2 separate regions of the Homo sapiens genome follow, and region 1 is linked to region 2. The links come from fine-mapping of genetic effects on gene expression. Tissue or cell type: lung. Region 2 holds a variant in brackets; the other region holds the start of a gene. All regions are shown on one strand. Distances are between the middles of the regions.

Region 1 (5,224 bases), 150 kb before region 2:
CCTGCACTGGCTGGCTGGCTGTCTCGTAGACAAACCAAAGTCTTCACAGCGGCCGTGCTACCTCTCAGACTGAAATACTGCCACTGTCTCCCTCCCTGTGCTACAGCCACAATGGCCCCAACCCATAAAGCACACTCCTGCCTCAGGGTCCTTGCAGTTGTTCTCTCTGTGTGGAAAATATTCCCCCAAATATCTGCATGCATTGCTTTCTCACATCCTTTAAGTTGCTGCTCAAATGTCACCTTATTAGTGAGACCCTCACTGAATATTCCATTTGAAGCAGGAAGCCTGCATGCTTCCTACCCGAAGCACGTTCTATCCCCGTCCCTGCATTAGTTTTGGCACAGCATTTCTCACCATCTGACATATTAGATACTTTACTTGTTTATTTATTGTCTAGCTCCCTCCACTAGAATCTAACTTCCATGAGGGCAGTTATTTTTACCTATTTTGTTCATTTCTGTAATTCTGGCACCTAGAAGAGCGCCTGGCACATCATAGGCACAACCTAAATATTTGTGGAAGGAAGGAGGAGGAAAGGAAGGACGGAAGGAAGGAGGGAAGAAAGGTCACTCCTAGGCATGAGATTCAGTTTCCCATGCCTGGAAGACACAGAACAGTTCAGATTGAAAGAGAACACAGAGTCAGTTGGAGCGATGATGCTGAAGTCAGCAGATGGGCTCTTTCTCCTCCACCTCAGGGTCCCAGGGAACGCCTCTTTGCTGAGAGGCACACAGAGACCATCGTGAAGGGGAAATTGAATGCTTCTTCCAGGAGAGCTCCACTTCCGTGGAGCTCAGACTCTGAGGGGTCAGGATCTCCTATGGGAGCAGTGGGGGATTGGAGGAGGTCCTGACCCCGTGGTACTGCCCAGCAGGAGGCCGAGTGTCACATTGTCCATGGGAGGGATGCAGCTTGTTCCCCAGCCTCTCCCTGTTTTGGAAGCTCTTCTCTGGCCCCTGCCAAGCTTTGTCTCCAGGACACAGTACTCAGTGTAGTGCTGAGGACAGACATAGAACTGTTTACCAATGCTGGCCACCTACTCCTGCTTATTTAGCCATGTAGCAGGCTTGCCAAACTAAAAGCTCATTGTTGGCCATTTGCAGTTGGTTTTGATCTTGCAAATTAATTTCTATTTCTGATGCCTGCTCTAGTTCCCATGTTTTCACATGCTTCCTGTGATACTCAGTCCCAGAGCTCTCTGTAAGGAAGAGGAGTTAGGAGGAAGAAAGGCTTTGGAGCTCTCAGGGGGCTTAGGGGTCATCTAGTCCAGGCCCATGCATTGCACCCTGAAGGATCTTTGGTGGGGGTTTGGGGCTCTGTTGGCTCTCTGAACTTTTTTGTGTATTTTTCCAGGGGCAAGAGTCCACAGCTGGCATTAGATTTTCCTAGGGGTCCATATCCACCAAAAGGTTAAGACCCTGATTTGGTTCAACTCCTCAATTTACAGATGAGAAAATGGGAGTGGATTGACTTGCCTAGGGCCACAGAACAGAGCTAAGATTTGAACTCATGACTTCTTTGTTCCAAGTAGTTAACAGATGCACATATATTTTGCAAAGTATTCAAAGGTGTTCTTATTGCCAGTGACTTCTGGGATACCACTGGGTTGAGCCACTGGGTGCTAGTGGCCCTGAGGCCTGCAGTGTACAGAGCTGCTGCACACGAGAGGCTTTGGGCTGCATTTGCGGGCCCGTGACTGGGGGCTGTCAGGAGCTGGCTGCAGCCAGAGGGGAGAAGCATGGGGGAGATGAGCACTCTCCCTTGTGCTTTTGGGAAGACCAGTAGAGAGAGCTGAGGCGTCAGCAGTCCTGGCTCTCATTCTCCTGCTGCCTGTCACTTATTCTCTGGGCCTTTTAAGGGAAGAAACTGGTTTTCTGCCTCCATCACCCCAGCTTAATATATTTACACTAACTTTTGCTCCCTTCATCTTCAACGGGACAAACTTGGCCAGCTCTCTGCCCTTGACATTCAAATAGTTTCTGGAAACCTGGCCTCTCCCATGAGGATAAGAGGCAGACAGAGTCTGCTGCACAACCCTATGGAGGTAGAACGCAGCCTTCACCTCTCACTTGGAAATATTTGATCATTTATTTACATCTTAGTTTGGCCTCTTCCAAGGCACCCTGGATCATCTCAGCAATCCTTTCAACTACCCTGATAGGTAGATGTTATTAATCACCATTTTACAGAGTGAAAATGGAAACTGAGCAGTCCAGTGACTTGTCCAAGGTCACAGGGCTGTTAGAGGCGGCACTAGGAATTGAGCCTAGAGCTTTGCCTCCAAGTCTAGTATATCTTTTCCCCTGCCTCTTCCTGCCCTAGGAGTCCACGTGTTTCTTGATTGTGGTCTTTTCATCCTCTTAAGACTTTCAGGTGAGCGCCACGAAGTGGTTAGCTACAGAGGCCTCAGCCAGGGCATTCAGGGATGGGCGGCAGGAAGCTCGGGGTTGGAATTCCTCACTTGGGAACGCCTCTTTGCTGAGAGGCACACAGAGACCATCGTGAAGGGGAAATTGAATGCTTCTCCCAGGAGAGCTCCACTTCCGTGGAGCTCAGACTCTGAGGGGTCAGGATCTCCTATGGGAGCAGTGGGGGATTGGAGGAGGTCCTGACCCCGTGGTACTGCCCAGCAGGAGGCCGAGTGTCACTGTGCTGCCCCACTCTTAGCCTCCCCATTGCCATAGCATTTTATTTCCCTGTTCCTTCAGCAGACAGTCACTATCTCTTACCCCTCAGTCCCTTCCTGACTGGCCATTAGTATATCAGGTCTTCCCAGTCCCTATGACAATTTTTTAAAAGGTAAAAATATAAACAGATCATTTTTAGTCACTGTAAAGTGCCACCAACACCATCACTGACTTCTCAGCTAAAACACAAAAACTTAGCAGGGACATTTGAGCAGCAAGTTAGACTCCATCAAGGACAGGGGATGGGGGCTCTCACGAATGATCTCCAGCCTAATCACCAATCCTATAGAGTCTTTAGCTCTGCAGAAAACCTGAGGCGCCGTTCAGGAAGGTGGCGATGTCTTCCCCAACTCCCACCACCCGGCCTCCCCACCCTCCCCACCTGCCATGGGTCACCTTCTATAGGGGGCAGGAGCTGGGGAGTGGGGCTGCCAGCCCCCTGTCCAGGTGAAGCCTGGGGTGGTTCAGCATCCGCTGGGCTGGCTTCTTTCACCTTCAGCTTGGATCCTGCGGCCACCTCCGGAGCTGTGGCTGCCTCCATGCTGGGCCTTCCCAGAGGCTGAGCTCCAGCTCTAGATTTTCACTGCTGGTGATGAGGGAGGGGCTGAGCACCTGCTCCCAGGCTGGCCTCCCGGGTCCCAGCCACAGGGTTACGTAACTGGGCTGGCCCTCCCCACTCAGCTACGCCCAGCAGAAAGGCTGAAGTAGGGGTTGGGGGAGAGAGGAGGATCAGACAGCAGCCCAGAATAGCCCCAGGAGGACTGAGGTGTCCCTGTTATCTCGGGAGAGAGATGACACCCCCCACAGCACCAGGGAGGGAGAGCTTGAACACACCATCCAAAAGGGACCTCTAATTTCTGTAGGGAGGGTTGAGTGACATCTCTGCTCCTGACCTCCAGTTCATCCCGTGGGGCATTCAGGTCCCAAAGAAGGGGCCCAGGATTAGCTGACTCACAGCAACGCCTGAACTGCTCTTTCTCCCTCTGCTCCCACATTCAATGAATTGTAAAGTCTTATCAACTCGACCTTTACAGGGCCTGTCCCATCCTCCCCCGCTCCCCGGGGGCAGCGGGCACAGCGCAGTGGTAGGTGGAGACTGCACTCGCACTGGCTGCCCAGGTGCCACTTGGGGCTCTGTCACCAACTAGCTGTGTGACTCACAACACCTCACAGTCTCTCTTCAGTCTGTTTCCTCATCTGTAAAATGGAGATAATTATAACCATAGGGTCGTTGTGAGGATTAAAGAGGTAATCTCTGTAAAGTGCTTAGCAGAGTGTAGCCGACTAAGTGCTTGATAAATGTAAGCTATTTTTAGGTCAGGCCAGCACTTCCCCCTTTGAGAGCTGTCAATGGCTGCCTTGCCTATTAGATGAAGTACAAATAAAGGGAGAGGCAGCAGTGGTGGAGGGAGGCGAGCTCAGAGACCTGCGTGTGACTTCTGGCTGTACCACTCACTCACCAGCTGGGACTCTGGGCAAATGGCCGACTCGGAGTCTCAAGTCCCAGTCTATGAAACAAGGGATGATGCCATGATTGTGTTGAGGATAAAATGATACAATCTATAGGAAAGTGGCCAGCTCACAGCAGGTGCTAGTCACATACTACAGGTCCTACATGATTTCCAGACTTAGCAAACCATCTTTCTATACGTGTTGTACATGCCATGGACACTGCCACCTATCATACTCCTACCTTCTTATCTCCAGAAGCCAGCATCCCTCTGCATTTTAAAATGCTTTAATTTTAGAGCAGTTTGAGAGTCACGGCAAAGCTGAGTGGAAAGTATAGGGTTCCCACAGCCCCCTACTCACCCCTGTATTTTTTTCATGGAAAAAAAATGGGTGCAGTTGAACAAATGGACTGACTTCTTACTCATTTTTGCCTTCAATTTTGGGGTAATTGGTAAGATCCCAGGAGCCTGTGTTATCTTGGGGTGACAGAAGCTCAGCCTCTTTGTAACTGGTATAGGAGCTAAGGCCCAGGACAATCTGTTTATTGGGGCCTTGGATGGCCTATGGGGTTGATTTGGTTGGCAGAAGACTGGGTTTTTGCCATATCAGAACTAGCTTGAAGGTCTTTCTGAACTATTTTTCCTGCTTGACCCAGCCAAGGCCCCGTAAGTGTGGACAGTCTCCTAGCCAGGAGACCCCAAATACACCCCCTTTTACACAACACGTAACCCATCTTTTGGTGAGGAAATTGGCCCAGGCTGAGTCTTAGCCCTTTGTTGGAGCGAAGGTGTAAAGAATCAACTTTAAGATGCAGGTTCCTAAGGTTTGCCCATCAGAAAGTCTAATTCAATAGGTCTGGGGTGCTATCCAGAAATCTGCACCTAAAAAAACCAACCTAGTGACTCTGGCGCAGGAAATCTTGGAATACCATGTTAGATAGAATTCCTTCAAATAAAACAACGATCTTAGATAATGTCCTGGGGTAGGAACTCGCCCATCAGATGGGCCTCAGGAACAAGGGCTTTGCCCTGTCATCTTCAGACCAAGGTGCTGGAGTATTACATGGAATATTGCCCCAGGCT
Region 2 (5,224 bases):
GACAAATAAACTGTGGTACATCCAGACAATGGGATATTATTCAGCACTAAAAATAAATGAACTATCAAGCTATAAAAAGACACAGAGCAACATTAAAGGTATATTATTAAGTGAAAGAAGCAAATCTGAAAAGGCTGCCTAGTGTATGATTCCCACTTTATGGCATTCTGAATAAAGCAAAACTATGGAGGCAGTAAAAAGATTGTAAGTTGCCAGGGAATTGGGGAAGGGAGGGATGAATAGGTAGAACACAGAAGATCTTTAGGGTAGTGAAACTCTTCTGTGTGATACTGTAAGGGTGGACACATATCATTTATTATGCATTTGTCAAAATACAGAATATACAACACAAAGAGTAAACTCTGGCTGGGCACAGTGGCTCATGCCTATAATTCCAGCACTTTGGGGGACTGAGGCAGGAGGATTGCTTGAGCCCATGAGTACAAAACCAGCCTGAGCAATATTAGTGAGACCTTGTCTCTCCAAAAAATTAAAATATTAGCCGAGTGTGATGGTGCTCAGTCCCAGCTACTTAGGAGGCTGAGGTGGGAGGGTTGCTTTGGCCCAGGAGGTCAAGGCTGTAGTGAGCTGAGATTGTGCCACTGTACTCCAGCCTGAGTGACAAAGCAAGACCCTGTCTCAAAAAAAAAAAAAAATGCTGTAAACACTAATGTAAAGTATGAACTTTGGTTGATAATGATGTGTCACTGTTGGTTCATCGATTGTAACAAATAAATATATTACATTGGTGTGGGACATTGATATGGGAGATGCTGGGCAGGGGAGGAGGAGGTATACTCTCTGTACTTTCTACCCAATTTTGATGTGAACTTAACACTGCTCTCAAAATAAAATATATTAATTTAATTATACACGTAATTTTTTTCTTTAAAAAAATCCATTTAGGCCAGGCGTGGTGGCTCATGCCTGTAATCCCAGCACTTTGGGAGGCCGGGGTGGGTGGATCACCTGAGATCAGGATTCAAGATCAGTCTGACCAACATGGTGAAACCCCATCTCTACTAAATACAAAAAAATTAGCTGGGTGTGATGGCGCATGCTTGTAATGCCAACTACTTGGGAGTCTGAGGCAGGAGAATCGATTGAACCAGGAGGCGGAGGTTGCAGTGAGCTGAGATTGTGCCATTGCACTGCAGCCTGGGCAACAAGCGTGAAATGCCATCTCAAAAAAAAAAAAAAACAATTTAATTTGCCATACTAAAAGTCTAAATAAGAAAGTGTAGCAGTCTTCCTGCTCCTTAGCTCAGCTAAGTCGGAGTTCTTGCCTCACAACCAGGAAGAATTAGGCACACGGACACCAGAGAGTGAGTGGAGTAGAATTTATTAAGCAAGAACTCTCAGTGGAGAGGGGACACAGTGGGATGGTTCCCCTACCTGAAGGTGGGAAGTCCCCTGTGTGGCTGGGTCTGGGGCCTTTTATGAACTTAGAATGGGGAGTGCATGCTGATTGGTTTGTGAGTATGCAAAAAAGGTTAAAGTGAAGACACCACTCTAAAGTAGGTATAACAATGTAAAAAACCAATTAGGAAAGGGTAGGTATATGTAAAATAGGTGAAGAGTGGGGACCAATCAGAGGAAAGCACACCAAATGGGAAGAAAAGTTCTCAATCCGGTTGGAGGATTGAACTTGTAGCCTGGCTTCCAGGCTTTCAACTGCCTTTGGCTTGGAGGTGGGGTTGTACTGGGGACCTGCCCCAATTTGCCTAGGCATTTGGCTGCCTCCTGTCACTATCATTTCGCCCCTCTGAAGAGGGGCCATTAGATATCATCGCCATTAGAATAGGGATGAAGTCCAAGGCCGGGCGTGGTGGCTCATACCTGTAATCCCAGCACATCGGGAGGCTGAGGCGGGCAGATCACAAGGTCAGGACAAGACCATCCTGGCTAACACGGTGAAACCCCATCTCTACTAAAAAATACAAAAAAAAAGCCGGGCTTGGTGGCGGGGGCCTGTAGTCCCAGCTACTCGGGAGGCTGAGGCAGGAGAATGGCATGAACCCGGGAGGTGGAGCTTGCAGTGAGCCGAGATCGAGCCACTGCACTCCAGCCTGGGCGACAGAGCGAGACTC[T/C]GTCTCAAAAAAAAAAAAAAAAAAAGAATACGGATGAAGACCAATCTTAACTGCTTCCTGCTGACAGGGGGTGCTGTTTTGCGAAAACGGCAGTCAGATCTCCCTCAGAGGTCTAAGGGTCCCCAGTAAAAGGGAGCAATTGTCCAAGCAATTGTCTCCGGTTACATGATCATTTGGAGTTTGATGGCCTCTAGGCAAGAATAAACAATTTGGTTTATTAGAAGACATGTATCAAATGAAACAAGGGGGTAAGGACAGCTCAAAAATCCCAGGGCTGCCAATACACTCAGATAGCTGGTGGCCATAGTTATGCCTGCTAAGATTTGGGTGCATGTTGGCTTTGGTTAGCTCCCTTGTTCTGATTTTCCCAAACAAAGAAACCTCCAGGTTATGAGCACCCCATTTACTTCTATCACCTGGCAGGATTTGCAGGAGAATTGCCCAGAATTAGAATATTGATCCAGATTTTTACATTACCCATCCCTTCTCTTTCTTCTGAGCTGCAGTGGGAGATCACTGGTTGGTTCACAGGAACAAGCAGGATTAGTCTAAAATGTGGGCAAAAACTTAAAAACAACTAATGAGATTAGAATTTAATGGCAAGTGTATGATAAGTTTGAAACATAATTTTTCTTTCTCCAGTCCTTATTTTTGTTAAAGACAAATCATGATAGGACTGAGTTGTTTGCAAAATAAACTTTAGTCTTATACTTGTCTCTTATACTGATTATTATCTATACTTATATTGATTATTTGCATAAAGTATAGCAAGAATAATTATTTTTCACATAGGCTTTTTTTTAAAAAAAAATTTTTTTTTTTGAGGCAGAGTCTCGCTCCGTCACCAGGCTGGAGTGCAGTGGCGCAATCTTGGCTCACTGCAACCTCCGCTTCCTGGGTTCAAGTGATTCTCCTGCCTCAGCCTCCCAAGTATCTGGGATTACAGGCGCCTGCCACCACGCCCAGCTAATTTTTGTATTTTTAGTAGAGATGGGGTTTCACCATGTTGGCCAGGGTGGTCTCAAACTCCTAATCTCAGGTGATCCACCTGCCTCAGCCTCCCAAAGTGCTGGGATTACAGGCGTGAGCCACCATGCCTGGCCCACATAGGCTTTTAAACTTGGCTTTGATGGAACTCTGTTCCACAAGGAAGCTCAGATAAGACCTTTTAAAGCCAAGTCCAGCCATGGGTTTATACCCTCATATACCTATGAGTTGGGTAAATTCCTCTCTTCTTGAGATCTCAAGATAACATGGGACTCCTGTGCCTGTTAGAAAGTGACCTTCTTTACTCAACACAGGTTAGGAACCCTGTACAGGGACAGTGTAGAGAAAGCATGTGACCAGTTTTCCCAGGGGGGTTTTATTGGCTCTGCAAGTCAAGCTTGATTCCCTAAAGGAAAGCACATCATTCCAGTCAAAGCCTTGGTGAAACAACTAGTTTCTCCAATTGTGTCCTGTTGCAAAAGAAAATGTTTCTTATTGCACTGACGCAAATTAATTACTATATTGCTGTAAGTTAAGAATACTCACAAATAGTTTCCAAATTATAGAGAAACCAGGCAGGGAGAAACAAATATGCTTCAAATTTTGTTCACAGGAGTATAATTTACTCAATTATTAAAGGCTGTAAATGTCTCAAAATAAAAGTTTCCTTGATTCTGAAAAACAAAACAAGGATCAGCAATGTCTTAAGCAAAAAGTTATAAAAAGATTACTTCAGTTTTCTGTTAGTTCAGTCAATTCAGTGAACCCTTATTCTGCTTGATATTCATGAACATTTTGGCTCTTCATGAGTCCTGTATGTTTTCCTCTATTCCAATGTTGCAATCTCCAAAGTTATCAGAAACCTGTATTTCAGACCACCTGTCAAAGTCCTATAGCTGATTATAAACCATCTTTTGAAAAGAATCAAAGCAAGACAACAATTGTCTGTGAATGACAAAATGTCCTCAGGGTAGTTAGGATCAAAAACACAATTGACAAAGAAATTTGGTTATTTCTGTGGTTGACAATAACTTAACATAGTAACCTTAATTATGATTGCTAGCACATACTCAGACATTAGAATTTTAGAAATCCCTTGCAATTCTGGAACATATGTTAACATTATTCACTAAAATATAACCTGAAGAGAATTAAACATTATTTTGGCAATGCTACATAAATAAACATGTCAAATAACCCTGTTTACCTAACTCTTTTGGATGCCCCAGGGGCCCTCTGTGGCACCCAAAAGTTAGGGTTGGAAAAGACAACCTTGAAACTGAAGTTTGATCTGGGGAAGGCTGTCAAATATGTTAAAGGTTTAAAACACCTGATATTATGAAATAGAATTCCGGATTACCATAAGTCATTTATTTAGCCAAAATGATGACTCAAAAAGTTTAAACAAGGCAAAAACCTTTACTCATTAAGAGGGAAGATTTAGTTTTCCAAACAATCTGTCCTTAATACTACATAAAAATCCTGTTCAAAGGAGAGAAAGCTAAATTTCACCTTTGCATTAGTCTATTATTAATGTCAACCCCAATTTTTTTAATGAAACCTTATAGATAATTCTATCCAATCTTAACCAGTTTGACCATGAGGTGAGATTCTTATAAGACTTTCATAACTCTTTATAAATTTTGTTAAAGAGTAGATCAATGCCTTAAGAAAATCTTGTGCTTTTATTCCAATGCTCAATTTGTGGAAAAACCCTATAATACCTTTTTGAAGTTAGTCAATATGTTCACACACACGATTTCTTTTGAAAGATTAATTTTTACAAACTTTCCACCACTTGTTTAAGCCTTTAGCTTTATCTTATCTAGTTTTTTAATCTTATCTAATTTAAAACAATCCTTTACCTCTCTAAACTAGGCAAAAATTTACATTCCCATGCCTTCTTATAATCTTTTACCAAAAACACATTTTATCTTCCTTACACACCTTGCATGTAAATCTATTTTCAGTAGTCTCAATTACATGTTGTAATGGCAACTCTTAGCAATTGATATAGAAAAAGCATTTGATGAAATTCAACATCCATCCATGGATAAAAAAAAACTCTCAGCGAACAAGTAACACAGAGAAACTTCTTCAACCTGATAAAGGACTTCGACAGAAAATCTAGAGCTAACATTGTACTA

What was found. PIP is the estimated chance that this variant, and not a neighbour inherited with it, causes the effect.
Region 1: it holds the start of MYBPHL, and the variant in region 2 is the best candidate, but not a certain one, in a credible set for the expression of MYBPHL in lung (TOPMed, PIP 0.55).

Annotation. Positions count from the first base shown.
Region 1 is chr1:109,303,761-109,308,984 of GRCh38, forward strand. MYBPHL (myosin binding protein H like) reads right to left here and starts at 3,251. Exons shown (of 9, transcript NM_001010985.3): 1 at 3,087-3,251. The coding sequence starts at 3,231. RefSeq lists enhancers at 2,769-3,508, 3,509-4,247.
Region 2 is chr1:109,451,011-109,456,234 of GRCh38, forward strand. No RefSeq gene overlaps it. Among named protein-coding and RNA genes, the nearest start is that of SYPL2, 13 kb to the right of the region's middle. RefSeq lists a silencer at 3,643-3,843. The variant T/C (reference allele first, on the strand shown) is at 2,091.